Linked DNA regions of Homo sapiens. The protein of the gene in region 5 purifies or fractionates together with the protein of the main gene of each other region. This does not show direct contact. Each region holds a gene or a part of one and is shown on either strand. Other genes may lie near its edges.

The links.
Region 1: the proteins of KDELR2 (region 5) and PPM1E purify together in Homo sapiens (affinity purification with mass spectrometry; one large-scale study listed by BioGRID and IntAct). This does not show direct contact.
Region 2: the proteins of KDELR2 (region 5) and EPN1 purify together in Homo sapiens (affinity purification with mass spectrometry; one large-scale study listed by BioGRID and IntAct). This does not show direct contact.
Region 3: the proteins of KDELR2 (region 5) and FAM91A1 purify together in Homo sapiens (affinity purification with mass spectrometry; one large-scale study listed by BioGRID and IntAct). This does not show direct contact.
Region 4: the proteins of KDELR2 (region 5) and WDR11 purify together in Homo sapiens (affinity purification with mass spectrometry; one large-scale study listed by BioGRID and IntAct). This does not show direct contact.
Region 6: the proteins of KDELR2 (region 5) and ACP3 purify together in Homo sapiens (affinity purification with mass spectrometry; one large-scale study listed by BioGRID and IntAct). This does not show direct contact.
Region 7: the proteins of KDELR2 (region 5) and PADI3 purify together in Homo sapiens (affinity purification with mass spectrometry; one large-scale study listed by BioGRID and IntAct). This does not show direct contact.

What each region holds. Positions count from the first base shown.
Region 1 is NC_000017.11:58,758,854-58,762,353, forward strand, and holds part of PPM1E (protein phosphatase 1E), read left to right. Parts: intron 1-3,500. UniProt on the Homo sapiens protein: Protein phosphatase that inactivates multifunctional CaM kinases such as CAMK4 and CAMK2. Dephosphorylates and inactivates PAK. May play a role in the inhibition of actin fiber stress breakdown and in morphological changes driven by TNK2/CDC42.
Region 2 is NC_000019.10:55,692,226-55,695,725, reverse strand, and holds part of EPN1 (epsin-1), read right to left. Parts: intron 3,041-3,500; coding exon 2,930-3,040; intron 2,776-2,929; coding exon 2,689-2,775; intron 1,001-2,688; coding exon 743-1,000; intron 579-742; coding exon 370-578; 3' UTR 1-369. UniProt on the Homo sapiens protein: Binds to membranes enriched in phosphatidylinositol 4,5-bisphosphate (PtdIns(4,5)P2). Modifies membrane curvature and facilitates the formation of clathrin-coated invaginations. Regulates receptor-mediated endocytosis.
Region 3 is NC_000008.11:123,771,439-123,774,938, forward strand, and holds part of FAM91A1 (protein FAM91A1), read left to right. Parts: intron 1-1,455; exon of another isoform or gene 1,456-1,594; intron 1,595-2,641; coding exon 2,642-2,726; intron 2,727-3,500. UniProt on the Homo sapiens protein: As component of the WDR11 complex acts together with TBC1D23 to facilitate the golgin-mediated capture of vesicles generated using AP-1.
Region 4 is NC_000010.11:120,882,362-120,885,861, reverse strand, and holds part of WDR11 (WD repeat-containing protein 11), read right to left. Parts: intron 2,083-3,500; coding exon 1,974-2,082; intron 49-1,973; coding exon 1-48. UniProt on the Homo sapiens protein: Involved in the Hedgehog (Hh) signaling pathway, is essential for normal ciliogenesis.
Region 5 is NC_000007.14:6,477,653-6,481,152, reverse strand, and holds part of KDELR2 (ER lumen protein-retaining receptor 2), read left to right. Parts: intron 1-3,500. UniProt on the Homo sapiens protein: Membrane receptor that binds the K-D-E-L sequence motif in the C-terminal part of endoplasmic reticulum resident proteins and maintains their localization in that compartment by participating to their vesicle-mediated recycling back from the Golgi.
Region 6 is NC_000003.12:132,341,407-132,344,906, reverse strand, and holds part of ACP3 (prostatic acid phosphatase isoform PAP precursor), read right to left. Parts: intron 2,356-3,500; coding exon 2,263-2,355; intron 1-2,262. UniProt on the Homo sapiens protein: A non-specific tyrosine phosphatase that dephosphorylates a diverse number of substrates under acidic conditions (pH 4-6) including alkyl, aryl, and acyl orthophosphate monoesters and phosphorylated proteins.
Region 7 is NC_000001.11:17,247,966-17,251,897, forward strand, and holds the start of PADI3 (protein-arginine deiminase type-3), read left to right. Parts: upstream 1-1,132; 5' UTR 1,133-1,172; coding exon 1,173-1,264; intron 1,265-3,932. UniProt on the Homo sapiens protein: Catalyzes the deimination of arginine residues of proteins.

The DNA.
Region 1 (3,500 bases), on a different chromosome or scaffold from region 5:
CGGAACACCTGTTTGAGACCATCTTGTCCAACATGGCAAAACCCCGTCTCTACTAAAAACACAATAATTAGCCGGGCATGGTGGTGCATGCCTGTAATCCCAGCTACTCAAAAGGCTGAGCCACAAGAATCGCTTGAACCCAGGAGGCGGAGGTTGCAGTGAGCCAAGATCCTACTGCTGTCCATTCCAGCCTGGGTGACAGAACAAGACCTTGTCCGCCCACCTTCCACTCCCCCACCAAAATAAAACAAAAAATAAAAACACACTTAGCTGGGCATGGTGGTGTGAACCTGTAGTCCCAGCTACTTGGGAGGCTGAAGTGGGAGGCTTTCCTGAGCACAGGAGGCCGAGGCTGCAGTGAGCCACTGTACTCCAGCCTGAGTGACAGTGAGACGTTGTCTCAAAAAAAAAAGTTACCTACGTTTTACTCCTTTCTCTAAGTTTAAATCCCCCAAGAGATTAAAATAATTTCAATGACAATCTGAGAATTTCTGAGGTTAAGGAGAGGCTGCCCTTTGAAAAGGTGGAGGTGAGAGATTTTATAACTGAGATAATTTGTAAATAAGGGTATAACTGATCTTACAGGAGATGTGAATATAAGGCTATCTGTGTAGTTTATATGGGTCAATATTTTGTATTTAATTTCTCTATACACTACTAGAGATAACATATATTTGTTTTAATCCAGAAGAAGCAAATATTCTGAAGTCTTTTTTCTTTCCATTTTTTACCAGTAGACTATTAAACGAAGATAAAGTCATTATTAGAGCTATATTGTCATCATATTTTCAGAACAGTTGTTTCCTCAGTTATTCATTTAGTCTGGGTTGGACTTCCCAAGGGGGAAACCAATATCCCAAGAGTCTGGCACAGTTAAGTAGTTCCAGATGGCTTGCAGTAATAATGAGGGTGGACACTTTAAAAATGGCTTGGAAAAGAAAATCGCTGGTTATAGACACTAATAATTCAGTTACATTGAATTGTGTGAATCATTAATGACTTTGGATTAGGTCAGAAAATCATTAAACTTTATCTAATTTACAAATATATAAATGGAAAAATATATGGATTCATGTTATATAATACCAATTTTTAAGTTGCACATTTTTTTCTCATTCAAAAATAATAAACGTTCACATTTATTAAATAAAGAAGTGGAGAACATTCACATAAGCAAAAAGAGGAAAAATACCATTCATTGTTAATCATGCTTTCCAGGTTTTTCTCCTGCTTCTCAGGCTATCCCACTTCTTCTCTGTGAGCTTTTAATATTCTGCCTACCCCTTTAATATTGGTGTTCTGTCCTTGACCTTCTTTTGTCTGGTTGACTTATTTGTCCCTAGTCAATATCAATCTGTCACATGACTTCAGTTATTGTAGTTATGCTAAAGGCTCCCAACTCTATCTCCATCCTTTCTTTGACTGCTAGAACAGCTTTACCTAGATGTCAAAATTTCCTCAGATTAAACTGTCTAAAACAGAATTCAGTCCTCCAACCCTCTTTACGGCCCCCAAAACAAACAAAACCAAAACCTGATACTCTTTCTGGTGGGTCCATCCCTGACTTCTCCTTTCCCTGACTTCTCCTTTCACCTCTCACATTCAGTCACATCTTGTTAATTCTACCTCGTAAATACCTCTTAAATATGTCTTTCTTCATTCCCACTGTCATTGTCATCTCTTGCCAGTCTTACCCTTCTGCAATATATTTTCCCCAGTGTAGCCAAAATGTTTAATTGTCACACTGCTTAAACATTTTTACCCTTTACCCAGAGTTAGCCAAACTCTAAGGTTAAGGGCACAGTCTTCTACTCTGCCAAGTCTGCTCAAGACTTCTGATCCTATTGTAAGGGGTTAGGGTGCAACTACAAATTTCAAATGAAGATGCTATGCAAAACCTCACTTCTAACATCAACTGCAAGTTTGGGGGTTTCCCCAAACCACCCTCAGATTCAGTAATGCACTAGAAAAACTCATAGAACTCACTGAAAGCTATTATACTTAGAGATACAGTTCATTACAAAGACAAGCTACAAATTAGTCAAAGGAAGAGAGATGCCTAGGGTATAGTCTAAGAGGGTTGCAGATATGAAACTTCCATTGTTCTCAGGGAATATACCTTCCATACCCTCCCAGCATGAATGTGTGGATGTATGGAAATACACACAAGGTATTGCCCACCCAAGAAGTTCACCTAAACTTTAGTGTGTCTGGAGTTTGTGTTTTGTTTTTTAAAGAGATGGGGTCTCACTATATTCCCTACGCTGGATTCAAACTCCTGGCTCAAATGATCTTCTTACCTCAGCAGAGTTTTCATTGAGATTTATTGATTGTTTGCATGGTTGAACTCAGTTTCCAGTCTCCCCTCTCCAGAGGTTAGGCTGATACTATGTGGTTCAAGGGACCCATCATGAATAGTAAGAATACTCATATTACTCCAGAAATTCCAGGGGCTTAGAGGTTACCTCCCAGGAGCTGGGGGCAACATCTGGACCTCTCTTTGGACAAGTTTTTTACTCCACATCCTTCATCACCTATCTCTCTTTTGCCCTCTAGATAAAATCCAAAGGTAAGGGCTTATAATCTTACTTCATTAGTTTTATTTCTGGAATCACTATCCACCCACTTCATCCCAGCTCTACCCCTCCAGAAACTACACTTCAGCTATATTAAACTAATGTATTTCTTTGAAGGTATTGTGTTATCTTTTGCCTCTGCACCTTTGCACATAGTATATTTTTCCCTCTGCTTGGAATACTATGTTCCCCCAATAGCCACTCCCAACACAATCCAATTTCTTACCCGTTTTTTAGTTCTCTGTTTAACACCTCTTCCTTGAGGAAGCCTTTGCTTACCGTCCTCACACTCATCATGAGTTAGGGGTCCCTTCTACGTTCCTTTCCATAATACCCAATGCCATTCCTCTTGTAAGTACTTGGTTTAATTTATTATTTTTTGTCAGCAAATATTTATATCTCCGTCACTAGACCAGAGGTCTCCAAAGTCAATTGCACCTAAAATACTTCATTTCGGCAAAGGAAGAAAACATTATCATCTGTTTATTTGTGTATAACATACGAAATTAAGTGCTATAAATATTTGACATGTTTATTGAGATTGGCAACTTGTTCTGTATGACGACTGATTTCATGTGAAGCATGGTAAGTGTGGTATTCTGAGGGAGTGCAAATTCCACAGCTTATGGGGGTTGACCGTGGCATCCTTTCTCCAATTTTTAGGCCATTACAAACTATTACAGTTTATCTGTGCCTGAGTAAATAGATTTATGGATTATATTTCCTGGTTTTAACAAAATTAGCCCTCATGAAATGGAAAATTGGCTTTAAAAGTTCCTGTGAAGATGGCTGGGCTTGGTGGCTCATTCCTGTAATCCCAACACTTTGGGAGGCTGAGGCAGGCAGATTGCTTGAGTCTTGGAGTTCGAGACCAGACTGGGCAACATGGCAAGGCCCCGTCTCTACAAAACTTAGTTCAGCTAC
Region 2 (3,500 bases), on a different chromosome or scaffold from region 5:
AAATCATCACCAAGGATTCACCGAGGGTGCGTGAGCGGGTGCGTGAGGGGAACGAGGAGGCTCAAACACTGACTGGGGGTTGGGAGTTTGGAGGGAGGGGGAATGGGTGGGGGCCCCAGCCACCCCTCCCCCTTCTAATGCCACGGGAAAGGGGTCCTCCTCTGGCCAGCTCCCCTCCCCAGGCCCCATGTCCAGTTTCTCTCCGGGGAGGTGGGGTGGGAAAGGAAGAGGGTGTAGTGTGAGTGGGCCCCAGGAAGGGGAAGGGCACTGGGGGTGGGGATCCCCCATTTCACATGCACTCACAACACTGATCTCCCAGGGAGCCGGAATGGGGCAGCCGGATGGAGCCAGGCCCCCTTCCGCCCTGGATTATAGGAGGAAGGGATTAGTGTTGGGGGCCGGGGGGCCCGGGGGCATCATGGGGGGCAGGCCAGGGCCCCCGCCAAGGGGAGAGATGTACGTGGGTGGCGCTCCAGGGACGGGAGGCACAGGACTGAGACGGAGCTGGTTCAGGGTGAGCGTCGCGGGAGGCGCGGGCTGGAAGGGGTTGGTGACGGAAGGGCCAGTGGCTGGGCCTCCTGCAGGAAGAGTAAACCAGAGACACGGAGTGGAGTCAGTGGCGCAGCCCACCTGTGTCCATCCAGCATGTGCAGGCAAAGGGCGAAGTGTCCCTGCCCCGTGAGGCACCTCCTCTGGTGGAACCCACAGGAAGGACTTGAGCAGGTGATGGGCCCACACTCACCGCCTGGCAGGAAGGGGTTGGAGGCCTTGGCTCCAGGCGGCGTGGGGCCCGGCCGGCTCACCAGCGAGTCCAGGTCGACGAGGGCTGCATTGGGCCCCAGGAATGACTCCGGCGTCTTCCGGGTGGGGGGCGTGGGAGTTGGTGTGGCTGCAGGTGGGGGGCTGCCCACAGCCTCAGCCAGAGATCCCCTGACCCCACTCATGTCAAACGCCCCAGGGCTTCGGGCCGGCACCTCTCCTGCCAGCAGCTCCAGCTCTCCTGGAAGGATCCGGGAGAGGGGCTCAGACAGGGCAGACAGCAGTGAGGCTCCAACCCGGGAGCAGTATAGGCCATCATAGGGGGCGCTTCAAAGAGCCCGGTGCCCAGAGGCCTCGGGAAGGAGGAACTGAGGTGCAGAGCGGAAGCATCGCTTGCCCAGGCCAAAACCTCACGTCAGCCCAGATTCCCATAAGGTGGGTCTGATTCCAGTGAGCAAACACAAGAGGGATGACAGAAGCAGGTGTCACCCTCTGACAACCAGAGGGCAGCAACTGCTTCAGGGTGGGGCCGTCCAGGGTCTATAGGCCCGCGGGGGAAGGCAGCGGGGGCGTGTTCACAGGTGCCTCCAGGCTCAGAGGAGCCTGCCCTCAGACGCTCCTTGAGTACACAGCCCCAGAGGGAGCTTCCAAGTGGACAGACAGCACAGACACGTGTTCCGGGCCAGCGTGAAGACATCTGTTGGCTAGAGGTCTGATTTTCTGTTTTTTTTTTTTTTTTTTTTTTTTCTGAGACGGAGTGTCGCTCGTTTCCCCAGTTGGAGCGCAATGGCGCAACCTCAGCTCACTGCAACCTCCACCTCCTGGGTTCAAGCGATTCTCCTGCCTCAGCCTCCCAAGTAGCTGGGATTACAGGCGTGCGCCACCATGCCTGGGTAATAATTTTGTGTTTTTAGTAGAGACGGAGTTTTGGCCATGGTGGTCAGGCTGGTCTTGAACTCCCGACCTCAGGTGATCCACCCACCTCGAGCTTCCAAAGTGCTGGGATTACAGGCGTGAGCCATTGCGCCTGGCCTGATTTTCCTTTTAAATAGATTTAAGAATTCTACCTAATGTTGAAAAAATGCACACATTTGTATGGGACAAAAAAGGGCCTAAAAGAAGGAAAACTGCATGCTGGAAGGTTGCTCTACGTTAACCTAGATAATGAGAGGAGGGAAGCGTGGGTGCAGCTCACTCCCTGCAAGCTGCCAGCCTTTCATCAGTGGAAACAGGTTTCTGTACCACAACCTGCTCTTCACTAACAGCTCACTTAAAATAAAAATAAGAGATCAAGGCTGACCTGACTCATCATGGGACAGACAGGTATCAGCTGAGGGCCGCGGCGAAGCACCAGTGGCCCACTATGACCTCGGGCACTCCTGACGAAGAGCCACTCAGGACTCAGCAGATGGGCCCGTCACCGGCGATGGGCGCCAGCTTACGCCAGCTGAAAACCCCAAGGAGCCAGGGCAGCTAAAGGCAGCACCCATGAGGACGCACCCTGGCCAGCCCAGGAGCCACCAGCAGGTGAGTGGCGACCCGGAAGGGGAGCCTCGGCTGCCTTCCAAACCCCTGTCCACGCAGCTCACTGCACAGGACAAGACAGTCCGTGTTCTTTGAGACACCTGGAGAGTTTGCAAGGCACTCAAGCAACGTGGAGGCAGAGACGGGTCAGAGGTCAACATTCGGGTGGGAAACCTTGAGAACAATTCTCAGTTTTTCTCTAAGTCTGCAATTTCTCTAAAATAAAGATGCACACTTCTTTTAAAGACAGGTGGATGGTTCTGGCCCACTCTACCCAACTGAACTTTTCATCCCTAAGTCCAGCCGGCCCTGCCTGGAGTGGGACAAAGACAGCAAGGGACGGGGCTCCCGAAGAGCTAGGGGAGGCTCCCTCTCGCCACTGGGCAGGGGAGGGCAGGGGCTCACCTGCGCTGCTCCCGGAGGTCGGCAGTGCCGTGCGGAGTCGGTCAAAGTCAGAGAACTCGTCGGGCTCCGTGTCGAATCCCCCGGCTGCTGTGGGGTCAGGATGTTCTGCTCAGCCCCTCCCTGGGGCCCCGCCTCAGCCCCCACCTCCAGTCCAGGCGTCCACCCCTCCCTTAGGACACTCAACACTAACTTCTCCCACTCACTCCCACCCGGGGCTCCATTCCCACCCCCATTCCAGTACCTGTTGTGCCATTGGTGCTGGGCTTGGCAGGTGACCCTCCCCAGGGATCTGAGAAGGCCGGGGCCGGTGTCCAGGGATCGGAGGCTGAGGGCCCACTGACCGGGACCCCACCTGGGTGAGGACAGAAGAGCATGAGGGGCTGGCAACCTTGACTGCCCAGATGGCTAGGGAGGACCATTGCCTCCAAATCTGTGGCTGTTCACACAAAAGCCCCCCTGCCCCCCAGAAACCCACCCCACCCGGCCTCCCGCACACACACTCAAATTCCAACTGGGCTTCTCTGCCAGGCTCTGCCCCTGGGACCCCAGCTGGGGTGAGGGGCTTCCCCGCAGCCTCTGCCAGACCTGCCCAGCCCTCCCTCAGCTCCCACGGCTCGGCCACCCCTCCCCTGTCCAGCTGGGTGTCAGGCCCCTTCTCCACCTGCACCTCCCAGCTCCACCCACCGCCCTCCCCAGATGCCTACGTCACACACGCTCTGCCTTGGCCAGAGCCTCTCTGCCCCTCGGCTGAGCTGCCATCCCCTCCCCACAGCACACCCCCCATGTCCTCCAAGGCACAATCTCACACACCC
Region 3 (3,500 bases), on a different chromosome or scaffold from region 5:
CATTTTCCAGTTCTGTAAGCTAGGGGCAGGTGATTTAGATTTTTAAAAAATGTATTTTAAGCTAATTCATTTTTATGTGGATGAGAGGACATTTAAAAAAATGTGGTATGGGTCATGATAGACTTTTAAAAAATATATAAAAAATTGTGGATGGGGCCATTATTTCAGGATTTTTCTGTAGTTTACCACTATCTTGTATTCTTTATCCAAAATAATTAATAGCCCTTTTATTTTGAGGGAAATCTTATGATAAGTTTCTGTATCATCCAAGAAGGGTCAATTTAAAAAATTTTTTGATGCGGCACAGGGGTGTACTTGGGGATGTATATGCTGGGATTGGAGTCTGTAGGAGCAAAGATTTCAGAAAATCTTTGTGTTTTTAGCATAATCTGTGATGGGTGCTTTATAGCTAGTGTCTTATTCTTACATCGCCATTTGATCTGATGTAGTTCCTTTTATATGCAGCCCAACTTCATTTGTCAGACCTGGTCAGTATTTCTGCAGGGCTAGAGTTGACTCGGGGTAAAATTACTTTTTTTTTCTTCTTTTTAAAAAGTCACCTTCTCTAGTGGCAACAGTGTTTTAAAATTTGAATGGTGGGAGATGTGGGGTAGGAGTAGGAGGGGAGCCCAGGGAGCCCAAGAATCTCAGAATGAAGCAATTTATATTACATACTTGGCCAGTGAAGAATAAAGCCAACTTTTAATGTGGGTTTTAGAAATTTGTGTTCACTCGTGTATTGATTGATAGGTTCAGGACCAGTTATTACTTAATGCTGAGAGCCAAAGCTTACAAATTTCATAGGTAGTGTATTAAGAGACTTATTTTGAAACAGAAGAGCAAAACCTCAAGCTAGATTTTAGCAAAATTGTGTGCTTGTTTGAGTATGCATGTGTGTGTATTTGTGTTCCCTGAGAAAGAGACTTTTATTTAGCAGTAGAGACAGAGAAAACCTTTAAAAGTGTGCTATTTTGAATCCTCTAAATATTGTCAGTACAACGACCCTGGCATTGATGCTACGAAGAGGATGGTAGAGTAGTTTCTCTACAATGAGATCTACTCTTAACCCCTTATAATGTTAAGACAGATGAAAGTAAGATAAGCACATACATTCTGGTTCTACCGTGGGTTCTGGCTTAGCCTGTGATAAACTAAGCTAAATGCAGGAAGAAAGCTCACCCTTGAACAACATGGGTTTAGGGGTGCTGCACCCCTGTGCAGTTGAAAATCCATGTATAACTTTTGACTTCCCCAGAAGTTAACTACTAATAGCCTATAACTGTTGACTTCCCCGGAAGTTAACTACTAATAGCCTATAACTGTTGACTGGAAGCCTCGGCCATAACACAGTTGATGAACACATATTTTGTATGTTATATATATTGTTAATATATGCTGTACTACAATAAGCTAGAGAAAAGAAAATGCTATTATGAAAATCATAATATTTTCTAGTCATTAAGTGGAGATGGCTCATCACAGAGGTCTTCATCCTTCTCTTCACATCAAGTAGGCTGAGGAGGAGGAGGAGGAGGAAATACAGGAAGTGTTGGTCTTGCTGTTCAGGGTGGCAGAGGAGGAAGAAAATCCCAGTGTAAGTGGACCTATGCAGTTCAAACCCGTGTTGTCCAAGGGCCAACCGCACATAATTGTACAGTTAAAATGGGACACATCATGTTCTATTTTTCTTAAAATATTACCTACCAATGGGTCCAGTTATGGGTCAGTTTACTTAGATGTGAGTTTCATCTGTCTTATTGTGAAGATTGCCTTAAGTGAAAGATGTAGGGACCTGTCTTTGGTTTTGGCTTACCTATGAGTAAGAAATACGATGAACTAAATCCTCTGATCTTTCTGTCATTACTTTCCTAAGATGTCTAATTTCACTTTATAGTGTGTTGGAAAGACCATACCTAGAAATTAGGAGGAGGATAGCAGTCATATATTAAATTAAGTTTATGGTCTCCCAGTGAATATAATGTTAACTATAATCAGGCAAACGTTGTTTGCTTTCAGGAACACTGCAACAAAACACTAAGTGCATACTAGAAAGACTTTAGCTTATTAAAAATGGCTCCGAATTCTAAAATTGTCTAAATGCCTTCTAATGAGGCCACAGGAGATTGCATTTTTAAGAAACAATCTTACGTACATTTAAATGTAAATTTTCCAGAAATCCTAATCTTTAATAATTATAACCCTCAGCTACAATTATCAAAGAGGGATGTATCTGTCCTTAGTTGCCATTCTTAAATTTAAATAAATGTAGGGGCAGGAAACCATCTATCCAACCACTTAATATAGCAGTCAGGAAGGAAATCTTTATAAGCAGAACTTAGTTCTTTGTTAACCAAAGTGAAGTTACACTCACCTACCGGTTTTTATTTGATATTAAATACTTCGGATAATTTTAGTAAACTCTTTTAGAAAGGCAGACTGAAAATACATAGAATTTTTGCTCTGAATACTGTAGCAGGAAAGTTAGTATAATAACATTTAAGAAAATATTTTTTATTTAATTCTGCAAATTAGAGATGCCAGGATAAAAATGGGGGTCGTGGTTTTAAAGTGTGTTATGGGAAAAAATAGTACTATTGTTCAGTTTGGAAGTTGTTTAAAATCTTTTTGAAATTTCTCCTAGAGTCTTGGAAATTCACAGAGAGAATATGAAAAGCAGGTTGTCCTGTACAGTATCCGCAATCAGTTACGATATAGAAATAACTTAGGTAAGTAGAGCCATGTTTATATTGGGGTGGAACTGACCACTACTCTTTCACATTCGTAAATCTTTCTTTTCAATACATATTTCATAGTACTGAGATTATTCCATGTACAGACTTTAAGAAACTCTACACTGATCCATTCCACCTAACAACAATTTGTATTAGCAAGTAGATTTTTCATTCTAATTCTGATAAAAATTATTTTTAGAGTACTGTTTATGGACTCATTTTATCTATAAAATAATCTTAATTCAAATGTCCTCTTTTTGCCTGAGGTAAGAAAATATGCCATAAAAGAAAAAGTATATTAGTTCTTAGTAATTTTTGACTTTGGGTTGTCTCCATAAATTTTCCAAATAATATGAAAAACTTTATAATAATTGGGACACATTTTAAACATAGTTCATTCCATGATTTTTTTTTCTTCTTTCTAAAAAAAAATTTGTTTATTTATCAGATTATTTTGGTTAGTCTATTCTGTTGCCCTGGTAGTCTTTCACTCCTGTTTGTTACTCTTATTTTAAGCATAATATTTCTGACATTGTTTTTCTTCATGAACATTTTCCATGAAAGTCAGAGGGCTTTTTACATTTAAAAACTAAAAAAGCAGCAAATAATTTTTAAAAATAGACTTGACTTCATTGAAAACGAGCATTCAGTTTGGCTCTCTTGTAAGGTAGTAGAATACAATTCAATAAAGCTCTGTTTTGTACCTTTTTGGGGGGCATGCTGGTAGTTCCATGCTTGTTTTCTCATTTGGCAAGAATTATTCTCTAC
Region 4 (3,500 bases), on a different chromosome or scaffold from region 5:
AAGTTGCTTCTTTCTCAGGCTCTTCAAGTTGTGAGATGGTGACCACTCCTGTAAAGCAAATGCAGACAAACCTAGAAGTGCTAGGTTTCCTTCTGTCAAAGAATCGTCCAGAAGAGCTGGGCACACACACCACTGCCCAGTATCATTTATTATTACTACACATGAATCCACATTTGTTCTTTAGATTTTACCTACTTAGAGAAAGGCTAAATGAATGCATTTTAATTGGAGCTTTTATGGCAAACTTCCAAAAGGTCTGACCTTTTGATGTTTTTATAAAATACTTACAAAATGAAAATAATGAATTCAATGATAGTATTGCCTATTCCTCGTCTCCTCCCCCATCTCTTATGTGCACACGATAAGACAATCACAGTTCTCGAACCAGGGTCCTTTATCATCCATAGATTCCTCCAAAATCACTTGTTTTATTTATATATTCTTTTATATTCCACCTATTGTAAAGCCTTTTAGTCCAATATCCTCGCATATGTATAAGTTCTTAACATGTAGTTATTATCTAATTTACCTAAATAGTATTGTGTTTATATGTGTGTGTGTGTGTGTGTGTGTGTATATATATATATATACTTCATCCTGTTTCTTACTCTTTCCACTGTATTTAAGTCCTCTTCCTCCTGTTTCTGCATGCTACGTAATACTCCATGGGTGCATCAGCCAATTGTTAATCTGTCTCCTCTCTCAGTAAAAACACACAGATGGTCTCCAAACTCACATCATGACAAAACACACCAGTCAATATCCTTGCAAAAGTTCATTTACGACCAAGAGCTCAGCGGACACAGAAGATGTCTGTGTTTGCCCAAGTGCTGCCAGCGTGCTTTACAGAATGGCTGCATTGGTCTACATTCCTACCAGCAATGCACAAGGATTCCCATACCCTATGTTCCACCCGTACTTAACACTATATGGCTGTCCAGTTTTTGTTAGTCTAAACGGTAGATCCATATCATGGTTTGAACATCTCTGAAAACTGATGAGTTTGAACATTCCTTTATATGGCTTGTTGGCCTTTTAGGTTTCTCTGCCTCTCATTAGCTCTTCACAGACTTTGTTCATTTTCTCACTAGGGTTCCCGCTTTTTTTCACTGTTGACTTGCAGGAGTTTCTAGTTAAATTTAGACACTGGAAAATTTGTTTTCCCAAAATGTCTTCTGTATTTAACTTTGACATCTTCATCAAACAAAAAGCATTAATCTTGATTAATTAAATGCATTGTTTCTTTTTTTTTTTTGCCTTTTGGTTTGAGCTTCTGATGTCTCCTCCTGCCTCTAGGTCACAGCAATATTTTGTATTTTGTTATATTCAATTTTATAGCTTTACATTTTTACATTTAGGTCTTTAGTCCTGTGACACTCACTTCTCTATACGGTATTAAGTAGAGATCAAGTATTTTTCTCCATAAAGTGAGACAGTTTTCCCAACACCGTCTACTACACAGTCTGTCCATCCTCTTTGATTTGTGCTACTTTACTGTATATTAAGTCCCCAAATATTCATGGGTCTGTTCCTGAGCTCTTTATTAGGTTGACTCACTTTCTATTCTTGTGCCAATACAATACTGATTTTATTTCCATGGTTTTGTAAGATGTACTAATATCAGGTAGGAAGGGCCAACCCCACCCACACCTCCCACATTTACTCCTCTTTATTCAAGGATGACTTAGCTATTTAGGACCTTTATTCTTTCATAAACATTTTTGAATATGTTTACCATATTCCTCAAAATATCCAAATGAAACTTGAATTGGAATTGCACTAATATGATATTAGGTTGATTTATCCAAGAAAATAAGAATTATCTCCATTTATTTAGATCATCTTCTCTGAACACACATTTTTAACCAAAAAAATGACATTGGCAGTAATGATTTTGATTCAAGCTTAAGCAAAACATTCACCACATACATATATACCTAAATAAGCTATTAAATTCTTAAATTGTAACTTACCAAAGCAGTTATTGTAGGGAAGTTTTTGGACATCTCTCTAAGAAGGGTACAAGTCCTAACATCCCATAGCTCCAGGGGTTTATCTCTGAATACGACTGCCAAATACTGCCTAAAATAAACAAAATTACTAAATAAGCCCCTTTTTGCAAAAATTTCACCATGAATTAGAGCAAATAAAAAGTTCAGTAAATTGAAAAACTCAGCTGACGCATTCTAAATATAGACAATTTAAACTACCATTTAGCACCATGATTAACAGTCATAAGAAGGTAAAGCTCTAAGTGACCTGTAAGAGAACATACAGTCTCACACAATTAGGCAAGGAGTCCAACTTGGAAGAAAGAGTGGCATAGATTCAAACCCTGATGCCACAACTTATGTTAACCCTCCTGAGGCTCAACTTCTCACACATGACAGGAGAATCTCATCATGTACCTCAATTAATTGATATACAGATTATGGTAAACATTCAATGAAAAAGTATGTAAAGTTTCTATCATTCTACTACAGTTGGTATTCAACAAATGCCACTTTATTCACTTTCTGTTAAGCCTGAAAGAAGTACTGAATGACATCAACGAGTGCAATTCAACAAATATAATTTGAGCACTGATTACTCAATAAGCATTATGAGGAACTAAAATATTATCAGCAAATGATGGCTGACATAGAGGAAATGTGACAGAGTAGGAAGATCCCTGTACTCCCTGTATCAAAGGACTGAGATTCTTCCACTCAGGACCATGTGTGACCCCAACAGAAAGTAGAAATTTACAGAAAGATACCTGGCAAAACACCCAAATAGTTTGAAGTTAAAAAATATACCTCTGAATAACACCCCATGGAAATTTTTAAAGATTATAATGTGAATTAAAATGAAAACATATAACCATAACAAAAATTGTAGGATACAGGAAAACTGGTGCTCATATAGCATTAACTGTTTACATTACATTTTAGAGAATCAACTTAATTCAATTATCTAAGTTTCTATTTTAGAAAACTATGTAAAAAAAGGAGAGCATATTTAAAAAGTAAGCAGAAGAACAAAAGATAAGCATGACAGACAATGAAATTGAAAATGGAAAAATCATAGAGAAGAATCAAATGAATCAAAAGTAGTTTCTTGGAAAAGATCAATAAATAAAATTGGTTGATATAATTTACTGATATTAGGAGTGGGAAAGATAATCACTGATCATAGATCCATGATGAACAAGCTTATTTCAATAAATTAATAAACTCAGCAACTTCAACAAAATGGACAGATTACTTGGAAGACACCAATTACCAAAGCTCAAAAAAAGAGAATCTAAATAGTCCTATATTTATGAAAAAAAAAAACAAAACTGAATTTGTATTTAAAAACTTTGCCACAAAGAAAATTTTAGGTTCAGATGGGTTTCCTAATAAATTTTTCCCATTTAGTAAGAATAATATCAATTCTACACAAACTCATTCAAAAAAAAAGGAGAGAGAATACTTTACAACACGTTCTGCAAGGTCAGTATTACCCTGATACCAAAA
Region 5 (3,500 bases):
ATGATCCGCCCGCTTCGGCCTCACAAAGTGCTGGGATTACAGGCGTAAGCCACTGCGCCTGGCCGTTTGTTTTTTACTATTCACTGTTTTCATTTGAGAGATTCAGGAGCATATAAGGAAAATATGAAATACTTCAGCTAAAATGCTAACGAAGGAAGTGAAATAGATGAGTTAACTTCGTGTGTGTGTGTTTGCCAAGTATTCCCGGGACATTATTAAATTGTTCTTGTTCTCAGACTTAGGATGATTTCTGTCCTGGTTTGTGTGTTTTCCTGATTTTAAGTAAATCACCCAGATCATTTATTCAGAATTAAATGCTAACTTTGACAAGCTGCTTTATTTTTCCATACTAAATTATAAAAGTTGTTTAGAGTCTTTTGAAAGAGTAAGAATTTGATATGAGTTTCTCAAATGACTGGAATAGGAGAAACGTGCATCCAGATTGTGTTTCTCATTTTGAAAATACTCATACCAAGGTTCATTTTTAGGATTTTAGCACTGATTTTGAAAATGCTGTTTTAGTCTCGGAACCATGGTGCTTTTTACCCCATAAGGATCAGGGATGAGGCTGACTCGTGTGGAAGCTGGAGATTCTGTGTTCCTCATAGGCAGATTCCAGAACAGCTGCCTTTAAGGACCGTTTTAAAGTGGGGGCAGTGAGTTGATCATGTTTGAGGCTGCATTCTCTTGTGGCTGTATCTGCTGTTGTCATTACAGAAGGGTGTCAACATGGAATGTGAGTTTCTCCTATTCTGAATTATCATTGCAGCTCGATCCACGGTATGCTCAAGTTGTCACTTTATTTTTGTCCTAAACACTGACCTACATAACCTCGGAAGAACAAGCGGTGGTTTTAGATGAAGGGCTTCCTATTCAAATTTTCCTGTAGGCCAATGGTTATTAGTGCTGTATCTACTGTAGTGCTGTGTCTATTAGTAGTGTGTATTACTGTAGCTAGTTATCAGTAGTGTGTATCTACTGTAGCTAGAGGAGTCTTTCTGAGATCCACGACCCCGGGCCTTCCCCCTCTAGTCTGTCTCCTTCCCTCCTTCCCCTGTTGCTTAGATTGTTGTTAGCTGTTATGTAGGTTGTAAACTTTTCATCCTACCAAACCCCATACTGGATCTTATGGTGTCCATACATTTCAGATATGGGACAGTTGATATTTTTGGAGTAATATAGTGGGTAAGATGTGGAGTACTCCAAGAAGCTTTTGCTTCACATATGCAGCTCCCTCTGTAGCTGTTTGGCCTGTGCTCTTTTGAGTGCCAGTCTCTGAGTAATCATTACTCTCATTTATTGACCACCCACTATGTGCAAGGCACTGGCACACAATTCAGAGCAGCAGCTTGTAGCTATTAAAAGTTTTTGTTCTTGGCTGGGCGTGGTGGCTCACGCCTGTAATCCTAGGACTTTGGGAGGCCAAGGCGGGCGGATCTTGAGGGCAGGAGATCCAGACCATCCTGGCTAACACGGTGAAACCCCATCTCTATTAAAAATACAAAAAAATTAGCCGGGCATGGTGGCGGGCGGCTGTAGTCCCAGCTACTTGGGAGGCTGAGGCAGGAGAATGGCATGAACCCGAGAGGTGGAGCTTGCAGCGAGCCGAGACTGTGCACTGCACTCCAACCTGGGTGACAGAGGGAGACTCCGTCTCAAAAAATCAAACAAACAAACAAAAAAAAAGTTTTTGTTCTTGGCCGGTCTTAGTGGCTCATGCCTGTAATTCCAGCACTTTAGGAGGCCAAGGTGGGTGGATCACTTGAGCACAGGAGTTCAAAACCAGCTTGGGCAGCATGGTGAAACCCTGTCTCTACCAAAAATACAAAAGTTAGCCAGCCGTGGTGGTGCGCTGTGGTCCCAGCTACTCAGAAGGCTGAGTGGGGAGGATTACTGGAGCCCAGGAAGTCGAGGTTGCAGCGAGCCGTGATCACACCATTGCACTTCAGCTTGGGTGACAGAGTGAGACTGTCTCAAAAACAAAAGACAAACAAAAGAGAGAAAAGTTTCTATTCTCAAGAAAGCTGCAATGTAGTTGAAATGATAGGAAAATGTACAAAAGATGGCCGAGCACGGTGGCTTACACCTGTAATTCCAGCACTTTGGGAGGCCGAGGTAGGTGGATCACCTGAGTCAGGAGTTCAAGACCAGCTTGGCCAATATGGTGAAACCCATCTCTACTAAAATTACAAAAAAGTTACCCGGGCGTGGTGGCAGGCACCTGTAGTCCCAGCCACTAGGGAGGCTGAGGCAGGAGAATTGCTTGAACCCAGGAGGCAGAGGTTGCAGTGAGCCGAGATCGCACCACTGCACTCCAGCCTGGGCGACAAGAATGAAACTCTTGTCTCAAAAAAATAAAAATAAAAAATAAATATTAAACTTTGCTGATGGACATAGAAGATGACCTGCATGTATGTTCATACTACGGTCCTGGAGAGCACCCAGGAAGGCTGGTGAGGAAGCAAGATGACATCTCTCCAAATTGATTTCTTAATTCAGAATAGTATCAAAGCTAAAGACAATAAACTGAGTGAAATAATCTGTAATATACCTAAGTGACAAAAGGTTAATATCTATAATAAAGTACTCCTACAAATAAAAACCCAGCTGAAAAATGGGCAAAGTTGGCAATTCACTGAAGAATAACGAAAGACCAATGAAGCATGAAAGGATGCTTAGTCTTGCTAGGAGTTAGGAATTTGAATATGAAAATAGCAGTGCGGCCAGGTGTGGTGGCAGCGCTTTGGGAGGTCAAAGCTAAAGGATCACTTGAGGCCAGGAGCTTGAGACCAGCCTGGGCAACATAGTGAAACCCTGTCTCTACAAAAAAAATGAAAAATTAGCTGGGCGTGGTGGCGTGCACCTGTGTCTTAGCTACTCAGGTGGCTAAGGAGGGAGAATCGCTTAAGCCCCAGGCTGCAGCGAGCTGTGATCATGCCATTATACCCTGGGTTGGGCAACTGAGTGAGGTTCTGTCTCAAAAAAAAAACCGGGGGGCGGGCAAGCAAAGAAAAAAGAACAGCAGTACATACCACTGGGTAGGAAAATGTTGGCAAGGATGTGAAGAAAGGGTCTTTGCATTTCGTGTTAGTAGATACGTAAATTGGCATAGCCTTTCTAGGAGAAATTTGACAATATCAAATTTTAAAATGTTCATGTCTTATTTTTGGTTTATGTGTTTTAATTTGCATTATTTGGGGTTACGGATTAAAATTTTTTAATTGATACATTATGATTGGATCTATTTATGGGGTACAGTTTGATGTTTCAATACATGTGTATGTTGTATAGTCTAATCTGGGTAGTTATTTCCGTCACCTCATGTGTTTATCATTTCTTCATTCGAAAACTTCTAACTATTTTGTAATATATAATACCTCATTGGGAAGATTGCTTGAGCCTAGGAGGTCAAGGCTGGAAGCTATGATTGCACCAGTCTACTCCAGCCTGGGCTACAGAGAGAGACCCCATCTCGAAAACAAAACAGAAAACAAAAGACA
Region 6 (3,500 bases), on a different chromosome or scaffold from region 5:
GAAAAATGTATGTGTATTTATATGACTGTCCTCTTTGTTGACTTATCCTTTTTCACCTCACAAGAACTAGTAGGGCCAGACTTTCTTGTCCTGCCATTTCTTTCTAAAAGAACTTCATATTGTGATAAGTAGTGGTATTGACTTTCAGAAGAAAAGCTTATATAAATGAATTTACCCATTCCTACCCAGTCCATAGCTTTTGGTTTAACTCTGGATCAGTGGGTGGCTCATATTTTGCAGAGTAAGGGTGCAGTAGGGAAATAATACCTCATTCCTTTATGAAAGGGTTAGAAATCTTTCTATGAACCTGACAGAGTTAAATGATATTTCCTTAAAAGCTGAATGGGCTGCCTGAGAGGCCAGTTAGGAAAGGCAATATATTTCTGGAGCCTTCAGTAATATATTCTCCCCTACCCCCATCAAGGTCTAGTTTGCTGACTTTTTTTTTCTTTTTTTTTTTTCAGAGACATTGTCTTGCTCTGTCACCAAGGCTGGAATGCAGTGGCCATCACAGCTCACTGTAACCTCAAACTCCAGGACTCAAGCAATCCTCCTACCTCAGCCTCCTGAGTAGTTGGGACTATAGGTGCATGCCACCACACGTGGCACTTTTTTTTTTTTTTTTTTTTGAGACAGAATCTTGCTCTGTCATCCAGCCTGGAGTGCAGTGGCACGATTTCAGCTCACTGCAACCTCCACTTCCTGGGTTCAAGCGATTCTCTTGCCTCAGCCTCCCGAGTAGCTGGGATTACAGGCATGCGCCACCACACCCGCCTAATTTTTGTATTTTTAGTAGAGATGAAATTTCGCCATGTTGGCCAGGCTGGTCTCGAACTCCTGAGCTCAGGCAATCCGCCCACCTTAGCCCAAAGTGCTGGGATTATAGGCATGAGCCACTACACCTGGCCACACGTGGCTAATTTTTAAAAGTGTTTTGTAGAGGTAGGGCCTCATTATGCTGCCCAGGCTCATCCTGAACTTCTAGCCTCAAATGATCCTCCCATCTCAGCCTCCCAGAAGTGCTGGGATTACAGGCAGGAGCCACCATACCTGGCTGTAGTTCACTGACTCTTGAGGAAAGCCTGCACCTTGCACACAGTGGATACTTGGTAAATATGCGTTAAATGAATGGTTAAGTACAAGCAGGGCAGGTGAGACCTTGTGCCAATATTTATTACCCGTTAGGAAGAGTTGATTAGGAGTCCCCCAGTTTCAAAGGCAGGATTAAGAGTGAGAGAAAGTGAGTTCGTGAAAGAGGAGACCAAAGTGGAGTGACCTACAGAGGAAATAAGTGAGAGAGATTTGGAAAAAATATCACATGACATGACCACATTTTGGAATAGCTCAGATCAAACTGTAGTAAGGAAGAAAAAAAAATTATGACTGGAACAAAAATGGGGGCTCTTGTTTTCACTGAAGAGTCTTTTACAATGCTAATGAATTTTCACTGAAATAGTTGCTGATGATTAAGTGAAAATACTGGGAAAGTAGCATGTGATTGGGTCAATTAACTTTAGGATGGATGGAGGCAAACTGTGTCATCTGTTATTAAGATAGAACTACGGAAGTAATTGCTGCCCCCCAGACTCTCACGATGACCTCAAAGTTAGAAGTCAATATGAATTAGGTGGGTGGTCAGAATCTTGCCCCATATTTAGTGAGCTAGTTGGGAAAACAGGAACAGAGAGTACTCCTTTTGGCCAGAAGGTGGAGCATGGTGAGTGAGAAACACCATGTAACCTTGAAAAGCAATCGTAATTTATCTGGCCACAAACGGTATTTCAAATGCATCGCAAAGCAAGAAAGAAGTTCTTTCTTGTTAAGCAAATATAAATAGCCTGGCTTATATTTTGCTTGTTTATTTCTACATTCGGAAATCAGGTAATTTTCCCCTCTTTCTTTATAACAACATTGTTTTTTCATTAAGACCAAGGACAGGAACCCAGCATTTTTGAGTGGCTGCAAAATAAATAAGCTCCTACTGAATCCAAGGGGGGAAAAAACTAAAGTGGAAACTCATAGAAGAAAAGCAATTTTGCTTGTAATTTTCTAAAGGGTGAAAACATAAATAATAATAGAGAGAAAAGAGAAGTCAGCATTTTCAAGTTAATATAAGGAAGTTGTGAATTACGTTTCAATGTCAAAAGAAGTATAAGTAATACATTCATAAAGAAGTGAAAGAAAAGATATTCATCTATTTCAAAATAAGCATAAATCATAAAATCAGATTGCAAGTTAACCTGTGATTTTTTTTTCTTTTACCTCACAATATAAAGGGTCGTAGACTTTACTCCAAATTCCAAAAAGGTCCTGGCCATGTAATCCTGAAAGTTTTCCCAAGGTAGCTATAAAATCCTGAAACACAAACAGAGAAAGAAAAATTCCTACACAGGTTTCTCAGCTTCAGCATTATTGATATTTTGGGCCAGACAATTGTTTGTTGTAGGGAGCTCTCCTGTGCATTATAGGATGTTTCACAGTATCCTGGCCTCTGCCCACTAGATGCCAGTAGCATTCCTAATCTCCCACTTGTATAACCCAGAATATCTCCCGACATTGCCAAATGTTCCTTGTGAGGCAAATGCGCCCCTGTTGAGAACCGCTGTTCTTCACAGAAAAATGCACCAGTAATATTGGTTACGATAATGTCATTCCAAAGAATTTTACAAACACGAATTGATTATTCCTTATTATTACATTTAAAATGTAGATAGATGCTGGCTGACTGCCACATGTTCCTGGTTCGTGCTGGAATTGGATTGAAGTGTACTGCCTCAGATTCTTTTTAGAAGTGGGTAAAGTATAACTCATGTGTAAATATGTCCCAGGTGAGAAAGGAAAGCATATTTCAGGCCAAAGCATCCTGGAACATGCAACACAAATAGGGCTTGGTCTTTGGCTATACATATAAAACTTGGATGGAATGCAAATCTTTCGCTAGGTTCTGTATGTTTCTTGGAATGTCGCAATAATGAGACCCAATGTTCAGCTATCTGACTGCTGAAATTGGCAGCCATTTCTGGGAAGCCTTTTTGGAAGATATTGTCTGTCTGATGGATGAAATTTCTAGGGAACTACAATTTGCCAATATTAACCTCAATAGATTTTCATAAAATAATAGAAATTATTGTTAAAGAGCTCCTACTGCCATCTTCTCAAACATAAAAGCTCCAGGGCCAGATGACTGTCATAGAGGAATTCTACCAAGCTTTTCAAGAGTAAATTATTCTAATGCTATTTTAACTGTTCTGGAGCATAGAAGATGAAAGAAAACTTTCAAAAACTTCTTATGAATTAAGTGTAACACTGATACTGACAAAGATTGCCCCCAAAATAAAACTATTAGTTCAATGCCACTTGTAAATATCAATGCAAAAGGTGTAAGTAAAATAACAGGAAGTAATTCAATGTCACATAAAAGGAAATGGGTTTGATTTGAGAAATATAAAGATTGTTCAACATTGGTAAATCTATGAATGTAATCAATCATTGTAATTAAT
Region 7 (3,932 bases), on a different chromosome or scaffold from region 5:
GTGGATCAAGAGGTCAGGAGATCGAGACCATCCTGACTAACACGGTGAAACCCCGCCTCTATTAAAAATACAAAAAATTAGCCGGGAGCCGTGGCAGGCGCCTGTAGTCCCAGCTACTCGGGAGGCTGAGGCAGGAGAATGGCGTGAACCCGGGAAGTGGAGCTTGCAGTGAGCCGAGATCACGCCACTGCACTCTAGCCTGGGTGACAGAGCGAAACTCTGTCTCAAAAAAAAAAAAAAAAAGAAACTTGCCCAAGGTCGCCCATCCAGGAAGCAGCTGAGGCAGGGCTGAAACCCAGGTCTGGCTCTAAAATCCATTAAAAAAAAAAAGTTGGTGTTTCTCAAAGGGCACCAAAATGCTTTGGGGGTGCTTATTAAAAAATCCAGAGGGCCGGGTGCTGTGGCTCATGCCTGTAATCCCAGCACTTTGGGAGGCCGAGGTAGGTGGATCACCTGAGGTCTGGAGTTCAAGACCAGCCTGACCAACATGGAAAAACCCCGTCTCTACTAAAAATACAAAATTAGCCGGAAGTGGTGGCACACGCCTATAATCCCAGCTACTCGGGAGGCTGAGGCAGGAGAATTGCTTGAACCTGGGAGGCGAAGGTTGCGGTGAGCCGAGATCGCACCATTGCATTCCAGCCTGGGCAACAAGAGTGAAACTCCGTCTCAAAAAAAAAAAAAAAAATCCAGAGGCCAGGCTGCACCCCTAACCTGCTGGATCAGAGTGGACAACAGACCTGGGAATCCGCATTTTCACCAGCTTCCCCAGCAGAGTAAGAAAGCTCCCCATTATAGTCTCTGAAAATGCAGAAAATGGAGGTGAGGAAGCAAGAAGCGTCCGAGATCAATATCATATATCTCTGCACCCCCTCAACAGCACCTGCCCCCAACAGTTCCTGGTGCCTAGCCAGGTACCTGTGGGGACTTGCTTCCCAAGAAATTAACTTCCTGGGTGCCGGGGTCGGGACAACAGGTTCGTATACAAATACTGGGTCCCTTCCAGCCAATCCTGAGCTCTCAGCTCTGGGAAGGGGCTGGGCTTTCATGACTGGAGCCAATGAATTGGCACCCTGGGCTGGAGGGGTGGGGCCAGGGGCTTTTAAACCTCATCCTAAGGGGCCTCAGGGGCAGTGTTGGGGTTGGCGGCCACAGCTAAGTCCAACACCAGCATGTCGCTGCAGAGAATCGTGCGTGTGTCCCTGGAGCATCCCACCAGCGCGGTGTGTGTGGCTGGCGTGGAGACCCTCGTGGACATTTATGGGTAAGAGTCAGAGGCCTAGTGGTTTGCAGGCCCTTGGTGCTGATGCCCTTGGACCTTCCTCCCTGCAGGCTGGGCAGGGCTTCTTCAGGGCCCACTCCCCAGCCTTGGCCTCGGAACAGCAGCCAATCAGGGAAGCTTGGGTCCTCCTCTTGCTCTACTGAGTTTCCTGAAGACCTTAGCCAGGGAATTTGAAGTTTGGGAGGCTGAGCCAGGTAGAAGAGGCTTCAGTGACTGAGCTCCAGACCGGGGGCTTGGAGGGGGCTGGTGCCGCGAAGAGATGGCACTTTTCTATGTCCAAGGGATGCTGCAGGTTGGGCTGAGGATCTGTCTGGGGCACACAAGAATAGGAACAGGCAGATATCCCCAGCCCCATCCTGAGCCTATGAGCCTAGAAACAGAGCATGAATCATTTTTAAAAAATAAGTTAATACATAGCACTTACCATGTGCCAGGCACTATTCTAAGAGCTTCACAAGTCTCTTGAGTTAAGTTTTGAACTTTAATCTTGAATTTAACCCTTACAACAACCCTGTGAGCTAGGCTTATTATTAGCATCATCTCATCAGACAAATGAGAAAACCGAGGCAGAGAGGGCAAGCCATTTGCTCAAGTCACACAGTTACTAAGTGGCAAAGCCAGGGTTTAAACCCGCTTGTGGTCTTACTCAGGAGTCTTATGGTTTTAGCTGCTCTGATACTTGGAAAATAAAGATTTCCAACCTGGTTTCCTCTAGACACTCAATGCCCATGCATTATGCTCCTACTGTGTGCCAGGTCATGCCTTTGAGGCCCATGGTAGAGGGAGGTAAGGCCTTATCTTCTCTCTCTTAGGAAGAAAAGAGGGTTAGGGTAGGGTTTTAAGAGCTGGGCTCTGGGGACCACCAGGGAGCTGGCTTCTTAGGCTTTTGGGGAGAATCCAGGGTCCTGGCTTGGAGGTAATCAGGATACTGGGAGGGGAGGGTGCAGAACTGTGGGACAGCTCTCACCTCTCAAGTCTCCCAGCCCTCTCCTCAGGCCAGGTTTCTCAACCTCAGCACTGCTGTCACGATACCTCTTTGTCATGGGGGCCACCCTGTGCACTGTAGGATGGAGAGCAGCATTCTGGGCCTCTCTTTGCTAGATACCAGCAGCACACTCCCGAGTTGTGACAACCAAAAATGTCCCCAGACATTGCCAAATGTGCCCTGGGGTGGGAAGAAAATAGCCCACCCATTGAGAACGAGTCTCCAAGACTAAGACTCGAAAAATCAGGGCGAACTTAGTCGGGAGCAGCGATGGGGTTGATCCAGGGCATTGGATGAGAGGGGGTGAGGAGCTGGTCATGGGAGGGAACCAAGTCGGGAGCAGAGCCAGCCCAGGAAATAAATCCTGGTATTGGTGGGTGGGCAGTAGGAGGAGGAAGGGGATTCAGTGGTTCTTGAAGGAAGGGGCAGCCACGGAGGCTGTGCCAAGGAGGTAATGAGGAAGGAGGGGTATCTGCCACTTGGCACCACTGCCTGCCTGCCATGGGGTGACTGGGCTGCGTGCCATGGGGTGACTCACCTGCCCCTGCTGCCTCGTGCCCGTTGGGCAGATGTGTCTCCGGTTTGACCTGTCCCAGGAAGCCTGGGCCTGGCTCCTCCCCCGCAGAGCTTCCTTAGAGGATAGAGGATGGATTGGGGCAATAAGAGATAAAGGCCATAGCTTCCTGGAGTCACCTGAGCCACACTGGAGGTTTGCAGAGAAGGCCATCGGTGGGACAGCCACAGGGTGGGGGATGGAAGCTCTGATACCTTCAAATGAGGGATTCTTGGGCCCTGGTGGCCAAACCCCCCAGGGGTGGGAGTGGAGAGCTCCTAGTTCGTTCATTCACATATTCTTCAAGTATTTCTTTTGGGTCTAGTGTGTGTACCATTCAGAGCCTTGAAGGATGAGCACAGGCTCTGGGGACACATACAGGGGAGAACAAGCAGCTCCTCCTCTCTGAGAAGCCAGCAGAGGCTGGACAACCTTCTTACAAGGGTGCCACAGAAAGGACTCCTTTCTGGGAAGGGGAGCAGGACTGAGTTAGTTCTGAGGTCCCTCCCGGCTTGGAGGTGCCATGATGTAACAATCCTGGGTCCTCAGCCTGCGGGCCAACAAGAGAAAGGGCAGTAGGTGTTGTGGCTCAGTCCTGGCTCTGCAACTTCCCAGCTCTCTGACCGTGGGAAACTCCTTTAACTTCTCTGAGTCTCTGTTTCCTCACCTGTTGCCTGGGGATGATAATAATATCAGCAATGGCACTGAATGCCACTCCCCAGCAGTGCCTGTAAGCGCTTTCCATATGTTAACTAATTCTCACAAAATTCTCAAGTGGGCACTGTCATCATCGTCATTTTATAGATAAGAAAACAAAGGCACAGAGAGGTTAAACAACTTGTCCAAGGTCACATGGCCAGTGAGTGGCAGAGCCAGGATGTAACCCAGTTTGGCCTTACTTCAAAGGGCAGTTAGGGGCATTGAATGAGATTGTGTGTGCAAAGCATGTAACTAATACTGATTTGTGGTGAACATTCAGTTATGTTAACTGTCACCATTATCATCATCATCAGTTTAAGGCTTTGTCCTGGGCCTGTGGACAGCCTCAAGCATCCCCAAACCTGCCATATGCAGGATGTCTGGGGAACAGTCTCTGGACCGTATTGGGAGAA